Homo sapiens: one gene and its partners. The protein of the gene in region 4 purifies or fractionates together with the protein of the main gene of each other region. This does not show direct contact. Each region holds a gene or a part of one and is shown on either strand. Other genes may lie near its edges. The genes, in order: HDAC6, CCT6A, RCN1, TUBA1C, TTC5, CCT6B and BAG2.

The links.
Region 1: the proteins of TUBA1C (region 4) and HDAC6 purify together in Homo sapiens (affinity purification with western blotting; 2 studies listed by BioGRID, with this or other methods). This does not show direct contact.
Region 2: the proteins of TUBA1C (region 4) and CCT6A purify together in Homo sapiens (affinity purification with mass spectrometry; 3 studies listed by BioGRID and IntAct, with this or other methods). This does not show direct contact.
Region 3: the proteins of TUBA1C (region 4) and RCN1 purify together in Homo sapiens (affinity purification with mass spectrometry; one large-scale study listed by BioGRID and IntAct). This does not show direct contact.
Region 5: the proteins of TUBA1C (region 4) and TTC5 purify together in Homo sapiens (affinity purification with mass spectrometry; 2 studies listed by BioGRID and IntAct, with this or other methods). This does not show direct contact.
Region 6: the proteins of TUBA1C (region 4) and CCT6B purify together in Homo sapiens (affinity purification with mass spectrometry; 2 studies listed by BioGRID and IntAct, with this or other methods). This does not show direct contact.
Region 7: the proteins of TUBA1C (region 4) and BAG2 purify together in Homo sapiens (affinity purification with mass spectrometry; 2 studies listed by BioGRID and IntAct, with this or other methods). This does not show direct contact.

The regions. Positions count from the first base shown.
Region 1 is NC_000023.11:48,817,919-48,822,271, reverse strand, and holds part of HDAC6 (protein deacetylase HDAC6), read right to left. Parts: intron 4,232-4,353; coding exon 4,163-4,231; intron 4,053-4,162; coding exon 3,860-4,052; intron 2,167-3,859; coding exon 2,017-2,166; intron 88-2,016; exon of another isoform or gene 9-87; intron 1-8.
Region 2 is NC_000007.14:56,058,265-56,061,764, forward strand, and holds part of CCT6A (T-complex protein 1 subunit zeta), read left to right. Parts: intron 1-97; coding exon 98-257; intron 258-355; coding exon 356-438; intron 439-1,279; coding exon 1,280-1,376; intron 1,377-2,004; coding exon 2,005-2,152; intron 2,153-2,205; exon of another isoform or gene 2,206-2,338; intron 2,339-2,542; coding exon 2,543-2,676; intron 2,677-3,482; coding exon 3,483-3,500. UniProt on the Homo sapiens protein: Component of the chaperonin-containing T-complex (TRiC), a molecular chaperone complex that assists the folding of actin, tubulin and other proteins upon ATP hydrolysis.
Region 3 is NC_000011.10:32,093,349-32,097,996, reverse strand, and holds part of RCN1 (reticulocalbin-1 precursor), read right to left. Parts: intron 854-4,648; coding exon 660-853; intron 1-659. UniProt on the Homo sapiens protein: May regulate calcium-dependent activities in the endoplasmic reticulum lumen or post-ER compartment.
Region 4 is NC_000012.12:49,267,485-49,272,132, forward strand, and holds part of TUBA1C (tubulin alpha-1C chain), read left to right. Parts: intron 1-1,980; coding exon 1,981-2,203; intron 2,204-2,343; coding exon 2,344-2,492; intron 2,493-4,648. UniProt on the Homo sapiens protein: Tubulin is the major constituent of microtubules, a cylinder consisting of laterally associated linear protofilaments composed of alpha- and beta-tubulin heterodimers.
Region 5 is NC_000014.9:20,285,028-20,289,400, forward strand, and holds the end of TTC5 (tetratricopeptide repeat protein 5), read right to left. Parts: 3' UTR 1,200-4,373; downstream 1-1,199. UniProt on the Homo sapiens protein: Cofactor involved in the regulation of various cellular mechanisms such as actin regulation, autophagy, chromatin regulation and DNA repair.
Region 6 is NC_000017.11:34,926,916-34,931,163, reverse strand, and holds the end of CCT6B (T-complex protein 1 subunit zeta-2), read left to right. Parts: intron 1-112; coding exon 113-215; intron 216-2,129; coding exon 2,130-2,202; intron 2,203-3,046; coding exon 3,047-3,116; 3' UTR 3,117-3,303; downstream 3,304-4,248. UniProt on the Homo sapiens protein: Component of the chaperonin-containing T-complex (TRiC), a molecular chaperone complex that assists the folding of proteins upon ATP hydrolysis.
Region 7 is NC_000006.12:57,178,344-57,182,991, reverse strand, and holds part of BAG2 (BAG family molecular chaperone regulator 2), read right to left. Parts: intron 961-4,648; coding exon 851-960; intron 1-850. UniProt on the Homo sapiens protein: Co-chaperone for HSP70 and HSC70 chaperone proteins. Acts as a nucleotide-exchange factor (NEF) promoting the release of ADP from the HSP70 and HSC70 proteins thereby triggering client/substrate protein release.

The DNA of each region.
Region 1 (4,353 bases), on a different chromosome or scaffold from region 4:
GAACTTGCCTTCATGCCATACAGAAATCCGTCTTCACACTGTCCAGGAACCCCTGGCCTCACATCATACAGTAACCACTGACCTGACCTGCACAAGACGACTGCTGTGAACCCATACAAAAGCCCCTGCCCTGACCTAGTACAGGAACAACTGGACTCTTTCTCCACATGGACTCCTGTATTGACTTTTTTTACACTCTACAGGAATCCCAGTTGCTATTCTTTTTACAGATAAAGAAACTGAGGCTCAGAGTGGTTAGATGACTTGTCCGAGGTCATAACAGCTGAAGAGGCAGCACTGGGGTTTGAACTTGGGCTCTCTGATGGAGTCATCTGTGTTCTTAACTCCCACCGTGTCCTGTCACAAGCAGTACTGGGCACATAGTAAGTGCGACTTTTTGCAAGCCAATTAATTTCTCAGTGACTTATTTTCCTCATCTGTAAAGTGGTGAAAATAACAGCACAGGCTGGGCGCGGTGGCTCACCCCTATAATCCCAGCACTTTGGGAGGCCGAGGCGGGAAGGTTACCTGAGGTCAGGAGTTTGAGGCCAGCCTGGCCAACATGGTGAAACCCCCGTCTCTACTAAAAATACAAAAATTAGCCAGGCGTGGTGGCATGCGCCTGTAGTCCCAGCTACTCGGGAGGCTGAGGCATGAGAATTGCTTGCTCGAGCCTGGGAGATAGAGGCTGCAGTGAGCCGAGATAGCGCCATTGCACTCCAGCCTGGGTGACACGGCGAGACTCTGTCTCAAAAGGAAAAAAAAAAAAAAAAAAAAAAAGAGGCAGGTATGGTAGCTCATGCCTGTAATCCCAACACTTTGGGAGGCTGAGGCAGGTGGATCACGAGGTCAGGAGTTCAACACCAGCCTGGCCAACATGGTGAAACCCCGTCTCTACTAAAAATACAAAAAAATTAGCTGGGTGTGGTGGCAGGCACCTGTAATCCTAGCTACTCAGGAGGCTGAGGCAGAGAACTGCTTGAACCCAGTGAGCCACAATCGCACCACTGCACTCTAGCCTGGGCGACAGAGCAAGACAACGTCTCAAAAAAAAAAAGAAAAAGAAAAAGAAAATAAGAGCACAGAAGGTTGCTGAGTGGGTTAATATCTGAACAACGCATAACAGTAACCAGGGGCCAGGTGCGGTGGCTCATGCCTGTAATTCCAGCACTCTGGGAGGCTAAGGTGGGTGGATTTCTTGAGGCCAGGAGCTCAAGACCAGCCTGACCAACATGGTGAAACCCCATCTCTACTAAAAATACAAAAATTAGCTGGGCGTGGTGGCGGGTGCCTGTAATCCCAGCGACTCAGGAGGCTGAGGTGGGAGGATCACTTGAAGCCGGGAGGTGGAGGCTGCAGTGAGCTGAGATCATGCCACTGCAGACTAGCCTGGGTGACAGAGCGAGACTCTTGTCTCACAAACAACAACAACAACAACAACAACAAAAAACCAGATCCAAAAGATCCAGCATTTACCATATGCCAGGCATTCCTCCATGATTAGCCTGCCTCATAAAGATGAGGAAACTGAGGCACAGGGCGTGGGGATACTGAGTCATTTACAAAGGTCAGTGAATTTCCTTTGTCCCAGGAACTTGTTAGAGGCAGTTCAGGTAGAGTAAAAAGCACAAACCCTGGAGCCAGGCTGCATGGGTTCAAGTCCTGGTTCTGCCATCAGTAAATGTGCCATCTCAGGCTAGTCATCACACCTCTTTGTGCCTCAGTTTCCCTGATCTTCAGAGAGGAAAATGAGGTAAGCTTACCCTACCTCATAAGGCTGCTTTGCCAAGTAACTGAATGAATAAGACACATGAGGTGCTCAGAAGAGTGCTCTGCACATAGTGAGCACTCAATTAAGGCTGTTAATGTTGCTGTTATTCTTATTACTACCCAGTATGTGCCAACAATCCCAGGCAGGGACACTCAAAGGAGATTTCAGGAAACTGTCCTGAGTGATGGTGCCAACATTTCCAAACTACCCTCCCACTGTGGGAAGAGGGACCAAGAGAAAGTTACCTCTAGGATAAGGATAATGCGGCCACTGGCAAGGCCCATCAGCAGGTGGGTGAGGTGGGCATAACCCTCAGGTGACACCTGGCAGCCCCCCAGCGGATCCCCCCGTGCAGCATCAAAGCCAGCTGAGACCAGCACCAGTTCTGGGTTAAACTGAGGCAGGGAGAGAAGAGATGTATAAGCATGAGGGTAGGGGCTTTTGGTAGGCAGTAAGTGATGGCGACCCAGAGACATGGAGAAAAGGACAAATGAAGACATGGAGATGCAAGTCAGAGAGATGGAGACACAGAACCTGGAGACTAGGAGACACAAAAGCAGAGACTGAAAATGAAGAAGGGAAGAAAAGAAATACAGACTCAGAGGTAGAAGAAATAGATGCAGACTTAGAGACATGGAGATGGCAGAAAGGGACAGATGGGGGCCGGGCATGGTGGCTCAGGCCTGTAATCCCAGCACTTTGGGAGGCCGAGGCGGGCAGATCATGAGGTCAGATTGAGACCATCCTGGCTAACACAGTGAAACCCTGTCTCTACTAAAAATACAAAAAATTAGCCAGACGTGGTGGCGGGAGCCTGTAGTCCCAGCTACGCAGGAGGCTGAGGCAGGAGAATGGCATGAACCCAGGAGGCGGAGCTGGCAGTGAGCCGAGATTGCACCACTGCACTCTAGCCTGGGTGACAGAGCAAGACTCCATTTCAAAAAAAAAAAAAAAGGGACAGATGGGGACATGAGACAGACTGACACGTCAAGAGAGTGACATGAAAAACAGAGAGACAGAGACATGTCCTCACACACACATACCCCAGGGTCAAACGTGGGACACACATACACAAGATACAGGGTTTTATATACATAGTGCCAAAGAGAGGTGCTTGCACACTTCCAAAACAGAAGATGGCAACGCAAGAACCACATACAGAGAAGATGGTCACACAGAGCCACACGTACTGCCACACAGACAGTACCATATAGATCAGTACTATATATCTGCACTAGTCATGTACACACACACAGTTTCTCAAAGAGGACAATAACCCACAGCCATCCTGCACAGTCACATACACATGCCATCACCACACAGCCACAATGGCGACATGCACTCTGGTATGTCCACAAGAGCTGGTTATTTGCACATACAGTTGTACACACACAGAAGGCTGTCCTGGCTACCCATGCACAGTCAGATGCACATGCAGATCCAAAGATGCACACCGGCGCCCAGGGTGACAGAGCGGTGCTCACACCCTTTCCCTCCCTCCCAGAGTCAGCCATACACAAGCCACCAGCCTCCTAGCTCACACAGAGGGAAGGCAGCTACCTCCCAGTCAGAGACATACACACAAACAGCCAGGGCAGACAGCCAGACAGTGACTGCTGTCACACACAGCCTTCCACATCCAGAAGGTCCCACACAGGCTGTCACAGAGATGGTTGCATTTAGTGACATACAGTATCACACCCATCACACAGAGAAAAGGTGAGAAATACCTGCCTGCACAGAGTCGCACACGCACATACTCAAGCACTTGTGATGGCACGCACATACAACACAGATCCAGCCAGGACACGGGCCATTGGTGCATAGTCAGAAGGCCCTCACACACACAGCCAAGACAGTCACTCACACAGTGTCACACAGAGAAGGCAGTCATGTACAGCCATCTGTGCACAAATACACAAGGTGATCACAGCCACCAACTGCCCTGGTAGCCTCATTAAACACCCATGCGCTGTCTCATATCATCAGCCACATGGTAGTCACACACACACATGCCAAGGAGGCAGGTCCAGGCTGCCACCTGCACAGGCGTGTCACATACGTCCTGCGATCTATCCTGAGCTGTACCTCGTAGGCAATGGGAAGCACCAGGCGATGCCAGGCAGCTAGGTAGTCAGCATCACCCATGCGGGGCCCGTTCCATGCCACGTTGACGGTGAAGCCTGTGCCCGCAGCCCGGCCGATCTGGCTGCTGGCACCCTCATCCCCCATGGGGAAGAAGGTGCCATGATCATAGCGGTGCAGGGACACATATAGCACACTGCCAGGGAGGGGGTGGGAAGCGGACCATGGCTGGTTAGGGGCTCCAGTACCCCTGAGGTGCTCACCCGCCTCCCTGATCACACTGCGGCCCCTGACTGCAGCCCTTACCTGGGGTCATCCTCAAACATGTGCTGAGTTCCATTACCGTGGTGGACATCCCAATCCACAATCAGGATCCTGGGGAGGAGACAGCACCTCAGTAACCGACGATACTCACGCCCTGGAAGAGGGCTGGGCTAGACCCCTGGGGTCTGCAGGGGCATTTAGTGCTGAGTGGCAGGACCCTGGGTCCTATCAGT
Region 2 (3,500 bases), on a different chromosome or scaffold from region 4:
GAGCTCAGTGAACTGTTAAATCTTAGGACTAATCCAGTTTCAGAAGCTGCTTTCTTAATGTTTCCCTGCTTTCTGTAACTTTTTTTTTTCTTAATAGAGAAGTGAATTCTGGCTTTTTTTACAAGAGTGCAGAAGAGAGAGAAAAACTCGTGAAAGCTGAAAGAAAATTCATTGAAGATAGGGTTAAAAAAATAATAGAACTGAAAAGGAAAGTCTGTGGCGATTCAGATAAAGGATTTGTTGTTATTAATCAAAAGGTGAGAATGAAAACTCAATGTATAAACTAAATAGTACGTATCATCCTTTTTACTTTTAAGGTGAAAGATGTTGAAATTAATTTTTATTTTTGTTACAGGGAATTGACCCCTTTTCCTTAGATGCTCTTTCAAAAGAAGGCATAGTTGCTCTGCGCAGAGCTAAAAGGAGAAATATGGAGAGGTATCCGAGTAATTTGACTTTTACTCATTTTGCAAGTGAATTGGGATTATTTCTTTTTCCTTATACTTTATTTTTGGGTTTTTCAACTGTATAGTTAATTGGCATTAACTATATTCACATTGTGCACCCCGTCAGCACTGTCCATCTCTAGGACTTTTTTCATCATCACAAACTGAAACTGTATACCCATTAAATAGTTACTCCCCATTTCTCCCTCCCCCTTGCCCCTTGTAAACATTATTTTACTTTTTGTTTCTGAATTCAATATACTTTTTTCCAAAGAGCTCCCCACAATAAAAAGCTTTTTTTAAAAATTTTTTATTATTATTTTTTGAGACAGTCTTGCTCTTTCGTGCAGTGGCATGATCTTGGTTCATTGCGACTACCACTTCCTGGGTTCATAGGATTCTCAGCCTCCCGAGTAGTTGGGATTACGGGTGTCTGCCACCATGCCCACTGAATTGCTTTGTGTTTTTTTAGTAGAGATGGGGTTTTGCCATGTTAGCTAGGCTGGTCTCAAACTCCTGGCCTCAAGTGATCCACCCACCTCAACCTCCCAAAGTGTTGGGATTACAGGTGTGAGCCACCATGCCTGGCTAATAAAGAGCTCTTGTCCACCTTTTAGATTTCATTTGCTAACTTGGGGAGAGTGGTTTAAATGGAGGGTTAAGAGAAAAGACTAGTTTTTAGCTGGTTGATGGCAAATGGAAAGGCTTAAAGTACATTTTAAAATTTAATTTTGTGTGTAATTCTGAAAAATTCCTTCCTAAAAATTACTGGTCTTATCTTTGAAATTCACTGGTAACGTTGCTTATCCATCTCCCTTAAAATGCTATTTCAGGCTGACTCTTGCTTGTGGTGGGGTAGCCCTGAATTCTTTTGACGACCTAAGTCCTGACTGCTTGGGACATGCAGGACTTGTATATGAGTATACATTGGTAAGTGTATTTTTTTCTTAAAGGTAATAGAACCTTTTAGCTCGTGAATTATTTTTGTTTGTTTGTTTGAGGTGGGGTCTCACTCCTGCCCGGGCTGGAGTGCAGTGGTGTGATCACAGTTCACTACAGCCTCATCTTCCTGGGTTCAAGTGATCCTCCCGCCTCAGGCTTCTGAGCAGGTGGGACCACAGACGTGTGTGCTACCATGACTGGCTAATTTTTTTTTTTCTTGGTAATTTTTGTAGAAACAGGTTCATAATTGTGTTGCCCAGGCTGGTCTTAAACTCCCGGGCTCAGGCTGTCCTTCACCCTCAGCCTCCCAAAGTGCTGAGATTACAGGCATGAGCCACCGTGCCTGGTTCATGAAGTCTTTAGCAGAAAAATTAATTGAAATTCAGGATCAGATTTTTGTTTATATACATTTTGAAGGTTTATGTGTAGTAATGGGAAGCCATTGATGGGGAAAATCACATTTCTTTTATGTGATTTTTCAAAAGGAGATAATTTGCTTTAATGTGATCAAGTTTGTTCCTTATTAATATGCTACTTGTCATTCTCTGTAAGTCCCTCTTCTCTCTTCACTCTGCACAAATCCTGTTTTTGAAAATCATATTTTTTCTACACATAGGGAGAAGAGAAGTTTACCTTTATTGAGAAATGTAACAACCCTCGTTCTGTCACATTATTGATCAAAGGACCAAATAAGCACACACTCACTCAGATCAAAGATGCAGTGAGGGACGGCTTGAGGGCTGTCAAAAATGCTATTGATGATGGTAAGATCCTCACTGTATTTCAATTCTTTTATATTGTTTTGCTGGTCTGAAAGGCATGGCCGAATACTGTGTTTTTATCAGTAGTTTACACAGCCAGACACCATGCAAAAGCAGTCTTCCCTTTAGAATGACTGATGGTATGCTAAGGTTTTTCATAGCATATCATTATTAAAGGTGAATACAAATAAATGAACTAATACTGATCTGTTGAAAGCTGCCAGTGGCTAGTGAAGCCATTCTGGTTGAACCATTCTCCTATTTGGTATGTTAGTCACTTGTATTTTGTCATAGTAAATTTGTAAGAAATTAATGGCTTTCATATGTATATTTTGTTATTCATAATTAGTTCTGCAGTTTTCTTAGCATTTTTCCTTTTCCCCCATCCAACAGGCTGTGTGGTTCCAGGTGCTGGTGCCGTGGAAGTGGCAATGGCAGAAGCCCTGATTAAACATAAGCCCAGTGTAAAGGGCAGGGCACAGCTTGGAGTCCAAGCATTTGCTGATGCATTGCTCATTATTCCCAAGGTGTGCATGCTTTTAACAGTCAATCTTCCAAAAGATTCAGCTGATCAAACCTTTCTGATAATGTAGGATTTATTCATAAAGTGGATTTTGGATAAGCAAGTTTGATCAGTTTTCTTTCTGACTCTAGAACAGGTATTCCTCATCATCCAGATATATTTGGTTTCTCTGGGAAGCCTGAATAGCTGACATTGCAGATGGCAAGAGATAACCTGTAGTTTAATATTTGCAGTATTAGGGGTTATACTTGAGTACAAACTTGCTTTTTGCTTTTGTTTTAAACTGATATCATTGTTTTCTATTATATACCAGTTTTGATATATAATTTATGACTGGTGTATTGCTGCTGGGTTTGGGGTAGTTGAGAGAGTTGATCAGTAACTTGTGTCTGGTATTCTCTGAAGGGAACATAAATGTTCTGTCTTTATGCAATGAGTTTTTTTTTTTTTTTTTTTTTGAGACAGTTTTGTTCTTGTTTCCCAGGCTGGAGTGTAATGGTGCGATCTCAGCTCACTGCAGCCTCAGCCTCTCGAGTAGCTGGGATTACAGGCACCTGCCACCACACCCGGCCAGGTTTTTTTTTATTTTTAGTAGAGATGGGGTTTCACCATGTTGGCCAGGCTGGTCTCGAACTCCTGACCTCAGGTGATCCACCTTCCACGGCCTCCCAAAGTCCTGGGATTACAGGCGTGAGCCACTGCACCAGGCCGAGATTTTCTTTTTCTTTTTTCTTTTTTTTTTTTTTTTTTTTTTTTTTACTATCAGTTATTAGTTCCTGTTTTCTCAAGAATTAAATTTGTTTACTTTAGGTTCTTGCTCAGAACTCT
Region 3 (4,648 bases), on a different chromosome or scaffold from region 4:
CCGTGCCTGGCTTTCAAGATCTCCCCGATTCTGGCCGCGTGAGTGCATCTTTGGTTCTCCTTGGGCCTGTTTCTTTGCCAACCTCACCATGCACCCAGCAGGTCTGCACCCCGTGCCTCTGTAATCTCATTTCTCCTTCCTTCTCCCGATCTTGTTTGTCTTGGATCTAAACCCTTCCCATTACTGCATGCATTGCTGCATCTTTGCCCCTCCAGTTGACCCACCTTCTCCAAATATAAATCCATTCTCCAAGGCTCCAGTTTCCAAACCACCCACACCAGGAAGCCTTCCCTGACTGCTCCGGCCCACTCAATCCTTGCTATCCAGAATTAGGCAGCATTTTGAAAATATACCACAGACACACTTCCTTTCTGCTTTCTTCTCCGTGTGTGCATCTGAGACGAAGTTGAGATGGGGTCTCAATCTAAGGGATTTTTTTTATTAGCCCTCACAGCCCTTCCCTCCCACCTGTAACTTCATTCAGTGTAAGCAACTCAGTACATTCTGAGTTTACAGAGGAGGGTGTTATACAAGCAGGTTCTACTTAGGAGGCTGTGACATCTCCCTGAAGGGAGTGGATATGATAAGAGAAGAGAGAGTCTACAAAAAGCTTGTGATCTGGGCCCCCACTGTGTCATCGCTCCTGCAGCACCTCTTACCTAGGTAGTAACCATAGGTGGCTTGTTTGTATTCTTCCCAGGAAATTTTATCATCCTTGTCCCTATCATAATCCTTCCAGACTTTGGCGACATTATCAAAGATGTATCTTTTCTGCACCCGTTTGATCCAGGTTTTCAGCTCCTCAGTAGTGACAAAGCCATCCCCATCATTGTCGATTCGATCAACAATCTTCCTGCAGTACAAAAAAAAAAAAAAAGAAACCCACACACAGGCACAAGGCTGTTATATTATCAAGGCTTGTGTGATGCTGGTCCAGCAAAAGATCAAACACCTGCACAATCCAAAATGCACATACAACTACAACAGAATCAATGATCCAAGGAGGCTGGAAGGAATCTTCAAGTTTATCCTTCCAAGGTTGATGTGCTTTCCCCCAACCAGTGCTGATGGCAGACACTGCTAATGGATCGTGCCCCTCTGTCCTGATAAACCTAGAGGTGCTCTCAGAATTCTCAGCACTGTGCTCTGGTGATGGCCATTATCAACGGATCAGAGCTGATCTGTAAGATGAAACCTATTAATCTTCCCTGCTGTAGTCCAGCACCCTCATTTTGGAGTAACGGAAACTGAGGCCCAGAGAAATGGAATAACTTCTAAGATTACACAGCCAGTATTTGGTAAAACTGGGGTGAGAACTCATGTCTTCTGGCTTAGGTCCAAGGCAAAAAGTGGAAACTGTATGTAAATCAAAAGATAAGTGATTTTTTTTTTTAAATCCCACCACCATGGATACAAAGACTTGAAACGTAAAGCAAGAAGACACCAGATGGTGGACACAGCACAAATGTCAGGGCTGAAGGAGCCTTGACATCATAGAATCTATTCACAAAACTTGACCAGCTGATCCGCTCTAGGAACCTTAAACCCTCTGCTCTTAGGGTAAAGACTCCTATACCAGCTCCACAGCTGGCCTAGGTTTCACAAATTTCCCACTGAACTCCACTGAGGTACCCTAAATGCTAGCCCAGAGCAAACTTCAGGCTGGGAACCCACTTTTGTCATCTCTAGACCAGATGGTCCCAAACCAGGACAGCATCCCAGTGGGGAACTTCAAAAACACCTCCAAGCTATCCCCAGTGTTTAAAAAAGTTTCACCCTTGTAGTCCATTTATCTGGGAGGAGGTCATACAGGCTAACTCTAGATTTCTTTCTTTGTTTTGGGCTGGAATTCTAACAGCTTCAGTGGTAAAACTTTCTTGTCAACAGACATTCTGAGTGGCAATTAATCTTTAATTAATAAAAAATGGGAAACAAATTCATCAGTTTGATAGTTTGACAGAGAAAATCTCCTATAACTTTTTTTTAGGTGGGGGAGGGTGTACACGAGAAGGGGAGGAGTGAATAATCAATGTCTCCACCTCCTACCTGAACCCAAGAACCCAAGCTCCTCTTTCTCAGGAAGGTGTAAACATCACCAACAGCTTGAAAGTACCCCTTCATTTGCAAGTTTAACAGGTCTCAATCCTAAAAGATAGGCTGGATCTGTGATCCCAGTGCTTCAGGAGGCTGAGGTGGGAGGACTGAGGTAGGAGGCCAAGAGTTTGAGAGTAGCCTGGGCAACATAGTGAGATCCTGACTCTACAAAAAATTTAAAAATTAGCCAGGAATGGCCGGGCATGGTGGCTCACGCCTGTGGTCCCAGAACTTTGGGAGGCCGAGGCAGGTGGATCATGAGGTCAGGAGATCCAGACCATCCTGGCTAACACGGTGAAACCCCGTCTCTACTAAAAATACAAAAAAATTAGCCAGGTGTGGTGGCGGGTGCCTGTAGTCCCAGCTACTCGGGAGGCTGAAGCAGGAGAATGGCGTGAACCTGGGAAGCTGAGCTTGCAGTGAGCCGAGATCACGCCACTGCACTCCAGCCTGGGCGACAGGGCAAGACTCCGTCTCAAAATAAAAAAATTAGCCAGGAATGGTGATGCATGCCTGTAGCTCCAGCTACTCAGGAGGCTGAGGTGGGAGGATTGCCTGAGCCCAGGAGGTCGAGGCTGCAGTGTGAGCTATGACTGTACCACTGTAAACAAGCCTGGGCAACAAATCAAGACCCTGTCTTTAAAAAAAAAAAAAAAGACTAAAACATGAAACTTCAAGTGTCTTCAGGCTTCTTCCCCCAGGAAATCATAGCCAGACACAGCAGAATTCTTTTAACATTGTGCAGTGTTGAGCCCAGTTATGTGCCAAGCACTGCTCTGATCCTGGGGACACAGTGGAGACATGCCAGTGGGTTACCCAACGCCAACTGGGAAACATAATCTCAGGGTAATGACATCAGACTCTACAATCCTCTTTTGTGGAAAGGACAGCATCTAATCTATGCCAAATAAACATCTAGGACATAGCTCAGCCTGACAAATATTAGGGACTCAATAAATATTTGTTGTAAGAATAAATAAGATCTTAACCTTCTCTTTAACAATGTCAAGGGAGATCCTGGGAAAGGCAGCTAGGATGGAGATGAAGCCTAGCACTTTCATCAGAACACCTGGATCCCCGTCCTGCCTCTGGTCCCCATTATCTGCGTGATCTTGGGCAAGTGTCTTGACTCTCTGAGTTTCCCCATCTGTAAACTGAACACCTACTTCACAAGGAATGTTGTGAGGAATAAAGGAGAGAATGCATGCTTTTCCTCACTAAAGACAATAATCTAGATCAGTGGCTGATGGTAGCTGCTACACAGTAGCCATTCGGGTGTTTGTTGCATGAATAAATGAATGAAGTTAAGGTGTTGATGCAAGGAGCAAACCCAGACCAACTCCATCATCATTTGTTCTCAACACCAACAGGTAACAGAATGAGCAAAACCTTTTGATGGGACCTATGGCCACTTGGAGGTACCCTGCTAGCCGCCAAATAGGGCTGGCCGACTCTGCTGCAGACGATGACTGACACATGGGAATAAAGGTGTCAAGAGAAGCCAGATATGGGGGTCTGTATGTGAAACCATTCAAACTTTAAACGTGGGCAAGTAATTTACACTGTGTCGCATATTTATGAATGCATGCAGCCTACGGGTTCCCACTTTGCAACCTCTGGTCCAGGTGTCTTTAGGGGCCTTAGAGCTGTCACATTTTCAGGACTGACAGGTGATGGTGACAAAGTTGCCTAGATCCAGCCACACTCATTCCTCCTCAGCCCAATCTTGGAGGGGACCACTGAAACAGAAGCTTTGGACAGAGGGGCAGCTTCTCACACTCAGCCCCATCCCAAACAGGACCCATAATTTCCAGCACCTCCTACCCCGCCTCTACCCCACATTTAACCTACAAGTGAATGGTGCATCCATCACCCATCTGGTGGCTAAGGCCAGAGACCCGGATGTCCCCTTGATTCCTACCTCTCTCTTCTCCCCCTCATTGAGTCAAGAGCAAGAGCTGCCAGTTCTGCCTCCCACTGGTGTCTAGATTCATCCCCTCCTGGAATCCGGAGAGACCAAGCCCCTTTGGCATTCACCTCCTCTCCCTGCCACTGGTCTAGTCTGTGCCTTGATTATGTTCTCTGTGTACTGCCCTCCTGCCAGCCTGACTTTCCCAATGAGTTTTGGGGATTATGACATTTTGACAATGTACAGGATAACATCTCATGTCCATCTCACCAAGGTCCTTCCTGCTCTGCCCTTGGTTTCCCCTCCATTCTCACCTCTCACTTCCCTTCCCTGCCCCTTTGCAGACTCACCACCCCTCATGCCCCAGAACGCTTTTCAAACCCTTTAGAAATGGGCTGTTTTCTCTTCAGGAAGGCCTTCCCCTGCTGTACACCTGGCAACCTCCAAGTCATCCTACAAACTCTGATCAGGTGACAGCCCCAATCCCCTCTCTCTAACCTGCAGCCTTGGCGGCTCCTTCTCCTGAATGTGCTCACAGTAGGTTTTATAGGCCATCATTGCAGCAATTGTGCATAATGGCTAGTTTGTCTGTGCTTCTCTCCTCCACATTTGCTTACAAGCACTTCGACGCCCAGAGCATAAGGT
Region 4 (4,648 bases):
CCCATCTCTACTAAAAATACGAAAATAAGGCAGGCATGGTGGTGGGCACCTGTAATCCCAGCTACTTGGGAGGCTGAGGCAGGAAAATCGCTTGAACCTGGAAGGCGGAGTTTCCACTGCACTCCAGCCTGGGCGACAGAGCGAGACTTTTTCTCAAAAAGGTAAACATGATGCAATGGTAAATAGTCATGGGCTAATTAGAACAAACTACTCCTGTTCTCCCACACCCCTGGAGCTGGGTGAGTAGACCCAGGTGATACTGAGCTTGCTGATGTGGTTAAGAGACCTTGATTGTTTCATGGGGAGTGTAGGTGGGAAGGAGGTCAAAGGTTGTGAGTAATTAGGGTTTTTATTATCTCTTGGCTTATGAGACCAGGTCCTTTGAGAACTTAGTGCTCTGCCAGTCTCCAAAGTGGCTAATCTGACTTATGATGAAATGCCAAACACCCTTTTTGTTTTCCTGTTAAGTCTGTGTGTACAGATTCTATGTTTATTCCCTTATTTTACTTAGCAGGTGTGGGTTTGGTAATTTCTAACCATATTCTGCTTTGGCCCCTCTGGCCTTTCTAAATTAACTTGGTCCACCTCATAAATATATATCTATGAGAGAGAGACACACACACACAGACACAGACACAGAGTCTTGCCTCTGTTGCCCAGGCTGGAGTGCAGTGGCGAGATCTCTGCAACCGCCACCTCCTGGGTTTGGGTTCAAGTGATTCTCATGCCTCAGTCTTCCGAGTAGCTGGGACTACAGGCGCGCACCACCATGCCTGGCTAATTCTTGTATTTTTAGTAGAGATGGGGTTTCAGCATATTGGCCAGGCTGTTCTTGAACTCCTGACCTCAGATGATCCACCCACCTCGGTCTCCCAAAGTCCTGGGATTACAGGCATGAGCCACTGTGCTCTACCATAATTTTTTTTTTTTTTGTATTTTTAATAGAGACAGTTTCACCATGTTGGCCAGGCTGATTTCAAACTCCTGACCTCAAGTGATCTGCTCACCTTGGCCTCCCAAAGTGCTGGGATTACAGGTGTGAGCCAGAAACAACTAATTTCTTAACCTATCAGTAAAGTCTTGGTAACATTTCTAGCCTTTATTATTATGGTCTTCCCTCTTCCGGAGATGTTTTGACGGTGAAGGAAAAACGTTCTTCCTATAGATTAGATTCTTCCACTTGGTTAAAAAGCTGCCTCTGACCACAGTTTTTAAAATACAGCTAACTGCTGCTTATCCAGCATTTTCTTCATGAGTCATGGCTATAGTTTGCTGGTTTAAGCTGGTTTTAAAGGAGGGAGAGAGAAGCTTTTGTCTCCTAAAGAATAGGATTAAAGCGGGACCAGAATGAGCTCAGTAGTTACACAATCATTCAGAGAATGAATCAGAGCTGGAAAGGGGAATTTTGCCTTAGTTTAAGGAATCATATCTACTGTGGCTACAAAGCAACTGTCTGGTCTTGCCGAGTAGTTCATGAACACATCTTTGGTTTTCCAAGGCACTTTTGCTGAATTAGGTCTTCAAAGATTTTTGCTTTTGAAATTATAGTCCCTGAGCAGGAGTGGCCTGCTGAAAGATGGTTATCTTTTTTTGTTTGAGATGGAATATCTTGTCACTCAGGCTGGAGGGCAGTGGTGTGATCTCAGCTCACTGCAACCTCCACCTCCTGAGTTCAAGTGATTCTCCTCCCTCAGCCTCCCAAGTAGCTGGGACTACAGGTGTGCGCCATCATGCCTGGCTAATTTTTTTTGTATTTTTAGTAGAGATGCAGTTTTGCCATGTTGGCCAAGCAGATCTCAAACTCCTGACCTCAGGTGATCCACCTGCCTCAGCCTCCCAAAGTACTGGGATTACAGGTGTGAGTCACTGCGCCCAGCCAGTTATCTGTCTTGAAGGTTAATCAGTCATTAGGTGTGAATCATTCCTAAATGTCCCATCTGATGTATTATACCCTGACATTTTCCTTTCTTCCTCCCACAGCGTGAGTGCATCTCCATCCACGTTGGCCAGGCTGGTGTCCAGATTGGCAATGCCTGCTGGGAGCTCTACTGCCTGGAACACGGCATCCAGCCCGATGGCCAGATGCCAAGTGACAAGACCATTGGGGGAGGAGATGATTCCTTCAACACCTTCTTCAGTGAAACGGGTGCTGGCAAGCATGTGCCCCGGGCAGTGTTTGTAGACTTGGAACCCACAGTCATTGGTGAGTTGACCTCAGTAACCCAAGTGAGATCCCAGGGTGCTGGGACAGGAGGTCTGTCCTGGGGGGGCTCCGCTGGTCACTCACCCACTCTCCCTCCCCGCTCCTTGTCCCTCCTCCTCCTCCCCCATCATGTTCTCCAGATGAAGTTCGCACTGGCACTTACCGCCAGCTCTTCCACCCTGAGCAACTCATCACAGGCAAGGAAGATGCTGCCAATAACTATGCCCGAGGGCACTACACCATTGGCAAGGAGATCATTGACCTCGTGTTGGACCGAATTCGCAAGCTGGTAAGTATAGTACTTTAAATAAAGTGGGATGAGAGTTTCTTTTGCAGTTCTGAGACCAAACTACAGAAATCATTCTTTGCAACTAAAATGAGACTATTTGCATTGCAACTAAAATGTATCTGTTCACTAAATTAATTGGATTTCTGAACCAGATGATCTTGGATTTATGGGACAACTATGGGGTAGAAGTAAGTGCTCTTTAGCCTATTTTGCTTCAAGCTGAGACACCCCTTTTGAGGTCATCTTAGTCATACTGAGTGAGTAGGTAGCTGACTTCTACATGTAACTAATTGATCAGAGTCATTTTTTAAAAATCTGGGATGGTTCCTTCATGTCAATACAGAAAGTTCAGAGAACAAGAAGCCAGTGTCACACTGACAAGAAACAGCCAATACTGGAAACTTCCAGTACTGCTGAAAGTGGAGTCGGGAGCTTCCTTATGAAGTGTGCTGTTTGGATCACTTTAATTAAGAGCCTGGCAATCAGATGACTCTTTGCTCCTTAGGCATGTGGGCAGCTTGTAAGTAATTAACCAGAGATCAAGCATGATGGTCTGGGCAGAGTAACTTGTCAAGAAAATCACATTGTATTAAGCCCAGCCATGACTGCTCCATTCTAAAATAGAATAGCCTCATCATTCATGGCTTCATACTTTCTCAGATGTTTACGTAGTCTTCCCAGCAAAACTGGACTGATGTTTCCGATGCTTAAAAACTAAGCTTTAGGCTGGGCACGGTGGCTGACATCTGTAATCCCAGCACTGGGAGGCCAAGGTGGGCGGATCATGAGGTCAGGAGATCGAGACCATCCTGGCTAACATGGTGAAACCCTCTCTACTAAAAATACAAAAAAATTAGCCGGGCGTGGTGGTGGGCGCCTGTAGTCCTAGCTACTAGGGAGGCTGAGGCAGGAGAATGGCGTGAACACGGGAGGCGGAGCTTGCAGTGAGCCGAGATCGTGCCACTGCACTCCAGCCTGGGCGACAGAGTGAGACTCCATCTCAAAAAAACAAACAAACAAAAAAAACCCTAAGCTTTAGTTATAAGCACTGACTTGGAAAATCAGGGACCTGCCTTTAGGACAAATAAACCTAGTAGCTATTTAGGGTTCTGGAACGTGAGGTTTATTGCCTACCAAAACAATTGCATTTGTCCTTGTCATTACTGTGCTCACAGGAGGCTTAACTGGTGTAATTGGTAGGCGAGAGTCTGCCCTGTGCATTGATCTCATGTAGTTGATGGACCCACAGGCTATAAGGGAGCTGAGTAGAGAATGTTCACAAATCTGAGGCCCATCACTTGGAGAAGCAAGAGTTTACAACAGAATACTTTATTTGGAAGGTCAAAATCATTCCTTCGTAAAGTAGCAGTTTGCTAACCAAAATAGCCCAGTTAGGTGGAGGAAATCCCCAACAACCTGAGGTCTCATGGAATTGTGGTTGTGTCACTTTACCCAAAATAAATGGGCTTCTTGGTACCTAGTGTCATATATTGGCTTACTGGGCCAATACTGTGCTTACTGTGCCAAGCACTATGCTGAGTACTTACTTAATTCTCAACCTAAGGTGATTACTATTCTCACTTAATCAGTGGAAGAACTGAGAAATGAATGTGGTCATACAGTAAGGAACTGGTACAGCCGGATCCTGACACAGCCTGACTCCAGTACCAGGGTGTTAGAACTTTGGCTATTCTGTTGTTCCACCTCAGAAAGCAGCTGCCAAATCTTTACAAGACATCCACTGTACCAGGCTGGTGGTCCTGGGCCTGCCCCTTAGGACCTCTCCAACTAAGAAACTGCCCTGTTCTGTGGCCACAGCAAGAGAACCAGAGGCTGCCTTCCCAGTTACCAAAACTTGAGCCCTGTATGCAAGCCCAGGCCTTGTGATTCCTCTGCCTAAGGCAATAGTTCATCTTAAAATAGTCTTAGCAAAGGTTTTTCTGCTCAAGGACTTGATTGTGAAAAGTTGTTCTGAATCACTTAGCACTTAAAAGCTTTTTTTTTTTTTTGGAGACAGGGTCTGCTCTGTCATCCAGGCTGGAGTGCAGTGGCCTGATCATCAGTCTTGAACCCCTGGGCTCAAATGCAAATGGTCCTCCCACCTTGGACCCCCAAAGTGTTGATTACAGGCGTGAGCCACTGCGCCTGGCCCAGAA
Region 5 (4,373 bases), on a different chromosome or scaffold from region 4:
ACTCAAGATGGATTAAAGACTTACATGTTAGAACTAAAACCATAAAAACCCTAGAAGAAAATCTAGGCAATACCATTCAGGACATAGGCATGGGCAAGGACTTCATGTCTAAAACACAAAAAGCAATGGCAACAAAAGACAAAATTGACAAATGGGATCTAATTAAACTCAAGAGCTTCTGCACAGCAAAAGAAACTACCATCAGAGTGATCAGGCAACCTACAGAATGGGAGAAAATTTTTGCAACCTACTAATCTGACAAAGGGCTAATATCCAGAATCTACAATGAACTCAAACAAATTTACAAGAAAAAAAAAAACAACCCCATCAAAAAGTGGGCAAAGGATATGAACAGACACTTCTCAAAGGAAGACATTTATGCAGCCAAAAAACACATGAAAAAATGCCCATCATCACTGGCCATCAGAGAATGCAAATCAAAACCACAATGAGATGCCATCTCACACCAGTTAGAATGGCGATCATTAAAAAGTCAGGAAACAACAGGTGCTGGAGAGGATGTGGAGAAATAGGAACATGTTTACACTGTTGGTGGGACTGTAAACTAGTTCAACCACTGTGGAAGTCAGTGTGGCGATTCCTCAGGGATCTAGAACTAGAAATACCATTTGACCCAGCCATCCCATTACTGGGTATATACCCAAAGGATTATAAATCATGCTGCTATAAAGACACATGCACACGTATGTTTATTGCAGCACTGTTCGCAATAGCAAAGACTTGGAACCAACCCAAATGTCCAACAATGATAGACTGGATTAAGAAAATGTGGCACATATACACCATGGAATACTATGCAGCCATAAAAATGATGAGTTCATGTCCTTTGTAGGGACATGGATGAAGCTGGAAACCATCATTCTCAGCAAACTATCGCAAGGACAAAAAAACCAAACACCACATTTTCTCACTCATAGGTGGGAATTGAACAATGAGAACGCATGGACACAGGAAGGGGAATACCACACTCGGGGAACTGTTGTGGGGTGGGGGGAGGGGGGAGGGATAGCATTAGGAGATATACCTAATGCTAAATGATGAGTTAATGGGTGCAGCACACCAACATGGCACATGTATACATATGTAACAAACCTGCACGTTGTGCACATGTACCCTAAAACTTAAAGTATAATAATAATAAAAAAAAGAGAGAGCATTAAGAAAATGAAAAAGCAAGCTGCGATTTGGATAAATATATTTGAAAAACATAATTTATAATGGATTAGTATCCAGAACATGTAAGGAATCAATAAGAAGACAACCCAATAAAAATTGGACAAAAGAAAACAGAGATTTCATAGAAAAAGAAACAGGAATGGACAAAGAAATGTAATTTATGCCTACTATGTGATATTTTATAATCATCTGGTTGGTAAAAATTAAAAAGCTAGACAATTTCAAAAAAAGAAAAAGACAGACTGGGCTTTAAAGATCAGTAGGGAAAGGATTGATTCTTTAATAAAAGGTGCTGGGCTATTTACTCATTATGAAAAAAATTATATCCGTACATAACATAAAATAAAGTCATACTGTAAGAAAAGGACAAAATAACTTCATAAAGCAGTAGAGGGAAAATGTCCTTATGACTTTAGGAGAGCTAAGAACCTCTTAAAACACAAAAAGCATTATCATAAAAGATGGATAAATTCAATGACATTGAAATTAAGAACTTCTGTTCAGCAAAAGACCCAATAGAATAAAAAAAAAAACAGGATAAAACTGTATGTAGACAAACGATTAGTACAGGGAATATATAAATCAATTTGACATCCAATACAGCAGTGTGCAAAGACTCGAATAGGCATTTTACCGAGAGAAAATATTAGTGGCTTCTAAATATATGAAAAGATGCTCAAGCTCATTAATAATCAGAAATGCAAATTAAGGCCACAAGGAAATAATACTCAAATCTCCTGTATTTGCAATACCTAAAAGATAATACCAAGCACAGAAGAGGATGGGGAGCATTGGGGTGACTCATCTATTGATAGTAGAGACATAAACTAATATAAGCACTTTGGAAATGTTTAGTGCTTCTCAAAAAAGTTGAACATGTATATACTCTATGATCCAGCAATTCCATTCTATGTCAATACTCTTAAACAGTGGTTCTCAAATTTTACTGTGCATCAGAGTCACCTGGAGGGTTTGCGAAACACAGATTGCTGGGCTCCTCCCACATAGTTTTGAATTCAGTAAGTCTGGGTAGGGGGCTTGAGAATTTGCATTTCAAAGAAGTTCCAAGGGATGCTGATGCTGCTGGTCTGGGAACCACTCTTCAAGAGCCATTGCTGTAAAAGAAACTTTTGCACTTACATATCAGGACATATACAAGAATATTAATAATGTAGTGCTTTGGTAGTAAAAAAAGAAAAACTGGAAACCCAAATATCCTTTAACAACAGGATGAATAAATTATGGTATAATCATACAATGAGATTTATATAGCTGTGAAGACAAATGAGATCATGGAGAGGTATGCAAGGGCTTCCAAGTTATCAATGATGTTCTAGTTTTTAAGGCAGGTGGATATTTTATGGGTATTCTAGTTATTCCTGAAACCGTATGTACAAATTTTGCATACTTACTTGTTTGTACGCACTGCTTCTCTGTGGCTACCACCTACTGGCCATTTTTCTACTCTCTAGCCCTACACAGAACATGTCAACTCATCTCAGAATTTGAGTAAAAGGGGAACAGTATTTGGGTCCCACATCTCTACTGCCTCAAATGTTTACACATACTACTACCCCCATCTTCCCTAGTTGCTTTCAGCCAATTCTCAAGTTATTTTTATACCCCACAAGCTCCTAATCACTCTTCTATGACTCTAGGCCTCAAAATGACACCCAAAACTAATTTAAGACTCCATATGTGGTATAACAGACAGTACTTCTAATAAAAACTGTCTCTTGCTACCATAGGTTTTTTTGGTGCAGTCCATGAAGAGTGTTCTTGCAAACTATATCAGACTGGTTACTCATACTGACTTTAGCTTATCTACTAAGATTCTTAGTAATATTCATATATGATGTTGAAGCTATACCTGAGAATGTAAGCCTTTTTGGACCAAAAGAATGGACTGAAAATTTTATCTTATTAGACTCAGCCTTTATGACTTCTTAGATAGAGACAGATAGATAGATAGATAGATAGACAGATAGATAGATAAAACTTCTCTCATCAATGCATTTCTACCATCCATTCTCTGAGGAGGCCTCTGCACTCTTTATAAATTTAATGAGTCATCAATGATATTCAAGGCACTGATCAAAAACTGAACAGGACTGGACCAAGAACAAAGATCTGAGCCATTTCACTAGAAGACTTCTCAATTCATCTGTATACATTAATGTATTACAGCCATTCAGTTGTTGTTGCTGTTTGAGACGGAGTCTCGCTCTGTCGCCCATGCTGGAGTGCAGTGGCATGATATCGGCTCACTGCAACCTCCACTTCCCAGGTTCAAGCAATTCTCTGCCTCAGCCTCCCCAGTAGCTGTGATTACAGGTGCCTGCCACCACGCCCAGCTAATTTTTGTATTTTTAGTAGAGACGGAGTTTCACCATCTTGGCCAGGCTGATCTTGAACTCCTGACCTCGTGATCCACCCGCCTTGGACTCCCAAAGTGGTGGGATTACAGGCTGAGCCACCGTGCCAGGCCAATTCAATTGGTTATTAATCCTCACTCACATTTCTCCATTTTACCACAAGGATATTAAGATAAACTGTTATAAAACATGTCACTAGACTCTAAAGAAACTGAGGATTTATCTAACTCTCTCTGGTCCTTCAGCCTAGTAACACTATTAGAACAGTATTGCTCTGTCATCTTGGACCATAGTGAAGACCACCCCTAGGGAATGACAGAATGGGAAAATGGAAGAAAGCTGGTCTCTAGCAACTTTGTGGAGTTGCCATTCCTGCCTGGGGCTGTCTATTGTCGGAATTCTTTTAACTGGGAGAGAAATAAACTGCTTTGTATAAAGAAAAAAATGGGGGTATTACTCCAATAAATTGAAGTGATCCTAAAACAAAGAATACAGGCCTAGGGAGAATAAAGCAGGCCAAACTACGTGGTGTTTTTTTTTTTTTCCAAACAAATTTAATTCTGTTCCAGCCCCAAAGAAGAGGAAGGACCTAAAGTTCAAAAATAAAAATAAAAATTGCTAAAAATAAAAGCCATTACAAAATTAAGCCCCCTCCTTTAGCAATAAATACTGAACTGATATATACATATGAGGCTTAGGAAGGAGGCAACAACAGGAACCTTGGGGACTCTGTCCCATGGCAAGATCCCAAGACTTCTACCAATTCCATGCTCTTTGCTTAAAACATAGAGAGCAGTGGAA
Region 6 (4,248 bases), on a different chromosome or scaffold from region 4:
TTGCCATGTTATGGATGTGTTTTTACAAGAGTAAAGAGTATTTTTATATTTGATATATGTGAAGGTATTATGCATATATATATAATATATATTATTATTTTTATTCCTAAAGGTTCTTGCTCAGAATGCTGGTTATGACCCACAGGAAACATTAGTAAAAGTTCAGGCTGAGCATGTCGAGTCAAAACAACTTGTGGGCGTAGATTTGAATACAGGTAAGAAAGTGAAGGAAAATTAGCTGCTTAATAAAGAGGTTATTCTTTAGTTACCCAGATCTTATGGTAAAGGAGTAGAGGTTTGGGTAACTTTAATATTTAAATTTTGGATGCCTTTAGTTTATTTTTGAGCTTCTTAAAAAATGTTCATTCATTTAAGAAATAGTTATTGAGTGCTTGTTTTCCTCTTGGGCTTCACACAGAACAAAACAGACAAAAATATCTGCCCCTGGGAGCTTATGTTGTAGTGGGAGAAGGTAGGCAGTAAATAATAACTTTAATAAATAAACTCCTTCAGCATTTTAGAAAAAGTAATGAATTATATGGAAAAAAGAGTGCTATAATAATGATCATGAATGCTAGTACAGGAGGGTGGAGAGAGAATGACAGCTTAAAGGGTTGGTCAGGGTAGGCATCATCTAGATGTCTGTTGAAAAAAAGTGGAAGGAAGTGAGGAAATTAGCCATGTAGGCAACTGGGGTTAAGTGTTCTAGGGAAAGAGAACAGCCAGTGGAAAAGCCAGTGTCTGATGTTTCTGAGGAAGGAGGTGAGAGAGGTGACAGAAGGTCAGATCATGCAGGGGCATTTGGACCAGTCTCAGGACTTTGGCTTTTACTTTAGAGGAGCAGGGAGCAATTTTGAGCAGAGGTGTGACATGGCCTAATTAATTAATTTATGAGACAGTCTCGTTCTATCACCCATGCTGTGGAGTGCAGTGGCACGATCTTGGCTCACTGCAACCTCTGCCTCCCAGGTTCAAGCAATTCTCCTGCCTCAGCCTCCGGAGTAGCTGGGAATATAGGTGTCTGCTGCCACGCCCGGCTAATTTTTGTATTTTTAGTAGAGACAGGGTTTCACCATGTTGGCCAGGCATGTGGCCTAATTATGTTTAAGAGAATCACTCTGGCCACTCTCCACTTTGTAGAGAAGTCAACTGAACAAGTAGAAGGTTGGAGTTGCAATCAACTGTGGTGGAGAATACTGGCTGGAGCAGGTTGTGGGTGAGAGGACATCAGCATTCAGTTTTGGCAGAGTCAAAGTTGAAGCATCTGTAATCTTTTAATTAAAAAAGTTGGATATATGGGTCTGGAGTTCAAGGAAGAGGTCTGGGTTGGAGATTAAAACCTGAGAGTCAGGCCAGGCGCAGTGGCTCACGCCTGTAATCCCAGCACTCTGGGAGGCCAAGGTAGGTGAATCACTAAAGGTCAAGGGTTCAAGACCAGCCTGGCCAACATGGTGAAACCCCATCTCTACTAAAAATGCAAAAATTAGCCGGGGATGGTGGCAGGCCCCTATAATCCCAGCTACTTGGGAGGCTGAGTCAGGAGAATTGCTTGAACCCAGGAGGTGGAGGTTGCAGGGAGCCGAGATGGCACCACTGCACTCCAGCCTGAGTGACAGAGCAAGATCTCTGTCTCAAAAACAAAAACAAAAAACACCAAAAAAAAAAAAAAAAAGAAAGAAAACAAAAAACAAAAACACCCAAAAAACCTTGAGAGTCATCAGATGTGTATGGTTTAAATCTAAAAGTCTGGATGAGATCACCTAGGGATTAAGGGTAGAGAGAAAAGAGGCTGGGACTGAACTTTTGGGTACTCCAACGTTAAGAGGTCAGGGAGGAAGAGGAAGAAGCAGCAAAGTAATCAGAAAAGGAGCCACTAATGCAAAAGAAAGAAAACCAGAAGAGTGTGGTATCCTGGAAGATAACATAGAGTAGGCGGCAGAATGTGATCAACTGTGTTAAATACTGGTAGATGAGGTCTGAGAATCAACCATTGGATTTAACAATATGGAGGTCATTGATGACCTTGACAAAAGTAGTTTTGGTAATGTATTAAATATTTTTAGAAGATATCAATTAATATTAATAGCAAATACTAAGATTTTGGTATGAAAATTGTTTTTACTTTTCAGGTGAGCCAATGGTAGCAGCAGATGCAGGAGTTTGGGATAATTATTGTGTAAAAAAACAACTTCTTCACTCTTGGTAAGTTCATATGAACATAAAGTGAAAGACCTGTAGAGTTATAATTGATAATATTAAGATGAAATTTTTTCTATTATTTTTGTCCCTGTACAGTGGAAAAATTGTCAAGTGTATGAAAGGTGTGGTATTCAGTTATTAGAACTAGCTTCTGTCATTTTATAGTCCATAGTCCCTTTTATATTTTAGATCTAGCAGTGTTAAGTTCTAAGAAAAATTAACCTTACTATTTGAGGGGGAAAGAAAAGGGGAAATTTACTGAAATAATAGCACATGCATGATGGAGAAAATCAAATGATATTGTAAAAATAAGCTCAATTTTGCTGAAATATAAATCAGGAATGCACTTTATCAGCAAAGGAGTTTAAATTATAATACAAAGGGTGACATTTGGGCCAGTGCGGTGGCTCACACCCGTAATCCCAGCACTTTGGGAGGCCGAGGCGGGTGAATCACCTAAGGTCAGGAGTTCGAGACCAGCCTGGCAAACATGGTGAAACCCTGTCTCTACTAAAAATACAAAAATTAGCCAGGCGTGTTGGTGGGTGCCTGTTATCCCAGCTACTCGGGAGGCTGAGGCGGGAGAATTGCTTGAACCTGGGAGGCAGAAGTTGCAGTAAGCTGAGGTCTTGCCATTGCACTTCAGCCTGGGCAACAAGAGTGAAACTCCATCTTGGGAAAAAAAAAAAAGGTGACATTTGTATTTGTATTTATAATAGCCTTGTCTCATAAAACATCATACTAACATCATTAAAGAACAAAGTACCCTACATAGGTAAAGATTGCTGGGGAAAAAAGCTAAGAGTGGGTTAGTAGGCTTTACTCACCCTCTCATCTTTTTCCTTAGCACAGTGATTGCCACCAACATTCTCCTGGTTGATGAAATTATGCGAGCTGGGATGTCTTCTCTCAAATGATGATTGAATTCAAAATCAACCCTTCTAGAAGATGAAATTTAGTACACTTTACATCTGACTACTATTGTGTAGCCTGAGCCATTCTGAATTTCTACACAATAAATGCAGTTTATGTCTTTTGGGTCTTAATAGTCTCAAAAATATTTCATCAAGGTATAAAGAACACAATAAATACTTTTACAGTAAAGGAATAATATTTAAATATTTCCCCAAGAGTCCTAACTCCCCACTCTTTGTTATATGCTATTGCAGTTTTTATAGCATAGGATCTTTATGATACTTAGACCTTTTGACAAGTTTTAATTAACAAAATAGAGGTTTTAGTACACCCAAGTAAATTTCCAATTTATCAGAGGGTATAAATATAGTAGGACAGAATGTTTCATTTTCTCTCAAAATTCTTTCAGTGACTTTTTGCTGCCACTCTTTCCTCTTATAAATATGGCGTGTAGCTTTGGGTTGCATTGTTTATAATATCTGACTCAATTTATTTTGTATATCATTTATTATATTTTATCTGGCTGTTTTTGTATGTATGATCAACAATTTATGCCACTGTGCTAGCTCTGGTAGCTCTCTGTCTAGATGGTGAGATAGAACAGGTCTCATCTGGAAAGAGAATTATTGACACCAATGGTGGGAAATAATTATTTTTGGCTTATAATACAACTGTTCAGTATAGATATTATAGCAATATCTTTCTTGTTTGAAACTCTAGAATTAATCTATTATGCTTTTTATTTTTATTAGAGTTCTTGTGGTTAACTTCTTTCCGTGGATGGTAGTTGATAAGAGACTAAAATATGGCAGGTGCATTAATGGAACTTTGGCCTGTTTGTGCATATAGGAGAAGGTTCCTTTAACCCTATAATTTTATAGCCTGTTTTTTCCACTTAATATGCTGTCAGCATCTTTCTAAGGCAGTATCCAGACTTCTTCTTCTTCTTTTTTTTTTTTTTTTTTTTTTTGAGATGGAGTCTCACTCTTCACCCAGGCTGGAGTGCAGTCATGATCTCGGCTCATTGCAACCTTTGCCTCCCAGGCTCAAGTGACTCTCCTGCCTTATCCTCCTTAGTAGCTGAGATTACAGGTGCACACCACCACGCCTGACTAATTTTTGTATTTTTAGTTG
Region 7 (4,648 bases), on a different chromosome or scaffold from region 4:
CCTATTCCTATTTCATGTTCTTCACATGAAAATGACAGCACAGGTTAGGCAGATGTCACATGCCTGTAATCCCAGCACTTTGGGAGGCTGAGGCAGGCGGATCACCTGAGGTCAGGAGTTTGAGACCAGCTTGGCCAACATGGTGAAACCCTGTCTTTACTAAAAATATAAAAATTAGCCAGGCGTGGTGGCACGTGCCTGTAATCCCAGCTACTCGGGAGGCTGAGGCAGGAGAATCGCTTCAACCCAGGAGGCAGAGGTTGCAGTGAGCCAAGATCGCGCCATTGCACTCCAGCCTGGGTGACGAGTAAAACTCCATCTCAAAAAAAGAAAAAAGAAAATGACAGCACATTTTTACATTCATGCCTTTTATTGGTCCTACAAGTTTCCTCATTTTCTCTGCATTTTGTCCCTTCTCTTTATGTTGTACCTCAATTCATCTTTTTTTTTTTTTTTTTTTTGGTCTCTACTTCTCTGCTTCCACTCTCTCACCCTCTTCCTCTGCTTTTTTAATCTCTTGCAGTCCAGTAACTTGTGAGGAACTGAAGTTAGGACTGTGAACCTGGGATAAAACACATGGCCTTACTGCTTGGGGCCAGCTTTTCTGAGCTTGCAGGCTTTTTCCTATCTCTCCTAGCCAGGGGCTTGGGGTAGAGAGCATGCTGGAAGAAATCTCTGAGTAAGTGGCTGCTGTAATGAACTGACAGCTGCAGCTGCTCTCTGTGGCTCACATTAAATGCTGTGGCCTGGTGTACGCATACCAAAAGTCAAGCAAAAATTGACCCACACTTATCATAAACTCTTTAAAGGAGTGTAAAAGATGAGCCCCTTCTGTGGAGATGGCTCTCACCGTCACTGATCTGCCTCATGTCCTGGCTATTTTGGATACTGTGGATCATTTCCAGAAGGATTTCTTTCTCTTGCTCAACAGCAGTTGCTGCTTCTCTCAAAGCTTCAACCCTATAGAAATTGGGAAAACAAAACGGTTATTGTATGCAGGATGTTCTTCCTATTAATTTTCTTTATCTCTCATTCAACCCAAATCAAGTTTAAAGATCACCAAACTTTTCAAAAATTCTTCATTTCTGCTTTAAAATTCTTTCATTTTTCTATACACTTGCCTTTCTCCCATTTTCCTCCCAGCTCATAAGGCAATCATTCTTTCGTGTTTATCTAATTAATACTATTTGTTTTTTACAAGATCTGTATTATTTGTATATTTTGAATTTATATCTCATTCTGTTTTTATTTTTTCACTTAGCATCCAGGTTGCTAGATTTTTGTTTGTTTTTTGTTTTTGAGACAGTCTTGCTTTGTCACCCAGGTTGGAGCACAGTGGCACAATCTCACCGCAGCCTCCACCTCCCGCTTTCAAGTGATTCTCGTGCCTCAGCCTCCAGGCCCGGCTAATTTCTGTAGTTTTAGTAGAGACGGGGTTTCACCATGTTGGCCAGGCTGGTCTCAAACTCCTGGGGTTTCACCATGTTGGCCAGGCTGGTCTCAAACTGCTGGCCTCAAGTGATCTGCCCACCGCAGCCTCCCAAAGTGCTGGGATTACAGGTGTGAGCCACCACACCCAGCCCCCTATGTGTACTTCTAATCAGTTGCTGCTAATTGCTGTATAATACTCCATGTGTATACCTACCTGATTTTCCCTCTCCACTCTCCCAGAGATGGACACTTAGGTTGTCTACCAGCTTCTCATTACTACAAATAACACTTCTATGAATACATCTCCCCTTTGGACCTTGGTGAGGATTTCCTTAGGACATATACCAGGACAGAACTGCTAAGACAAAGGGTATGTGTACTCTGCTTTTGACTTAGTATTATGACTATTCTGCAGAACACCTGTACCTATCCACTCTCCACAGCAAAGCACAGGGGTCCCCATATCCCTACCAACATTCTGCATTTTCCAACTTTCTATTTGCTGCCAGTGTGACAGAAATACACTGATATGTCAGTGTTAACTTGTGTTTTCCTAATAATTTCAGACATCTCTTTGTATCCTTGTTAGCCTATTCATAGACTTTTCCTATTTTGCTTTTCTATTTTTAAACAGGAGTTACTGTTCCCTTGTTGATTTGTATACTCAAGAGATTCTTGTTGGTTACAGACATTGCAACCATCTCTCATCCTCTCATATATGAACCACGTCTGGGATGTCTTGCACTAAAGAGAGACTCTTATTTTGATGCGATCAATTTTTTTTTTTTTTTTGCCTTATGGCGTATGCTTTTGAAGTTTTGACCTAAGGTCTTCCCCCACCCTTTGGTCCTATTTTCCTATATTTTCTCTTATTAACTTTATAGTTCTACCTTCCTTATATTTATGTCTTTAATCCACCTAGCATCAACCCCTGCATGCAGTTAGGTAAGAATGTTTTGTTTTTTTCTTCCAAATAGCCATTTTCCCCAACATTATTTACCAAGCAATCCATCTTTCCCCTAGCGAATGTATATTCGCTATTTATCTCTAAAATCTCTATGCCATGCATTAGTGTATTTAACTGTTCTTATACCAGTGCCAAGTTTTGGGTTTTTTTTTTTAATAGCACTAGCCTTGTACTACACTTTAATATTTGATAGAGCAGGTCCCTCAATCTTCTTTAAAGATAACTTAGCTATTTATGGACTTTTACTTCTCCAACTTTTCCATATAAATTCTAGGGTAAGTTTATTGTGTTTCTCAAAAAACAAGAGAAATTAGACATCTTTATAACATCTCTCTGTTTAAAGGCATGATATATGTCTCTTCATTTATTCAGATCTATAGAGTTCCCATGTATTCTTCATAGTAGTCTTCGTGGATATTGCTGCTATTGTGAATTTGTATTTTCTACTTGATTTTTACTGGTTTGAGAAGTGCTGTTTTTGTAGGTTTATCTTGTCACTGGCAACCTTGATTTACATGTATTCATTTTAGTGTTCAGTCTGTTGATTCTGTTGGTTCTTCTAGGTTAATAATCATATCCATATCATCTGCAGTTTTTATTTCTTCCTTCCCAATCCTATTACTTTTTTTTTTTTAAGAAAAGGTCCTTCAGTACTGTATTAAACAGTGGCAATCATGGGGGTATCTTTGTCTTTTCCCAAATTTAAGGGAAAATCTCTGTGGCTTTTTTGTGTAAAGCCCTGATCAAACTATAGAAGCACTACTTTCCCACTTCACTCAATTGCACACACATGCACTCACACTATACACACACATGAATATACCCAGTCACTAAAAAACTAAGCTGTGGAATAAGGGCAAAATAAAGAAATATATATTGTATATTTAACATGTTCTATACTTCCAGGGAACGTTGTTATTATGAATTACAGTAACTAAGATGCCAACTTTTGCAAAATGAAAGTGACAGACCTATTCCCAGTATTTGGATGGTCTTAGAAATACAAGTTCATGAAAGATCTAATCCTAACTGCTGTCTTAAGTGTGCACAGAAAGAACAACTTCACCAATGTTTTAGCACGTTCAATTCCATAAAAGGATCCTCTCCCTGCCCTAAGCACACACATGCCTTTTCCCCTTCGGTTACCCACCTGTTATACCCCAAAATAGTACTGACAGGCTGTAAAATCACAGGATATCTTTATTCTTCAAGATATTAAATATATGTCAAAGTGTGTTTATAAGAGCCAGTAAAAGCAAAGAACTGGGAAGAATCGCATGTGACAAATTTGGCTAGAGAACACAATCAAAATACAAATATTCTACTAACTAATAGTAATGCAAGTATCAGGCCCTATTCCAGGACCATTCAGTATTTACTTAAACATTTTACATTAGCAATCTCTCAGAAAGATAAACTAGGGCCCAGAACATAGGAAAGAGACGGAGTTGGCACTAAATATTTATGCTAAAAGCACAAACCATGACTCCAATATTTAGACAAATGACACAGGTGAATCATGTGATTGATAAATGAGAAGATGCTGAAAGAAGAGATTAATTTTTCAACACCTTTTCGGTTTGTATTCAATTGTAAGATGATAAGAGAGAACAATGCTATTCTGAAAAGGAAGGTTTCATTTATGAGTTACAGCAGTAAGTTCATGTTCTTAACAAAATAGATAAAAAAGACATTCTAGAAAAAATATAATAAGCCTGTCATATGACGAAAATATTTTATCATTAAATGAGACCAAATAGTTAGGTGGAACTGCTAAAGTTTGTGTTTTAGGGACCCTCCCCCACCCCCATCCCACAAGGCTTTTTTTAATACATAATAGAAATTACCAGGGCATTATCCCTGTGAAAACCAGATTTCATCATTTATAGAACTTCTTATATACATTTTTATGTATACCTTTTTCATTTCATGCAAGGGTAAAATGTCATTCTTCAAAATGTAAAGATCTCAGGGTTTATTTGGCAACATGGGCTTTTCATGTCCTATTCCCTCTTCAGGTAGCATTCTTTCTCCCTGACCCTTGTCTACTGGGATCACCTTTTTCAAAACCCAATTGCTTCAGCAGGAATTGTTTCCTTAGCTTCCCCCTTCCTCTCCCTTAAGGCAATTCATGCTCCTTTTGGCCCTGGTACATCCATTTACTCTACAGTCTAAAATATGTCTACCTCATATTTTACATTTTTTCTTTTAAAAAGCTGAACCTAGATCTCTACTTAGTTTAAGTAACGT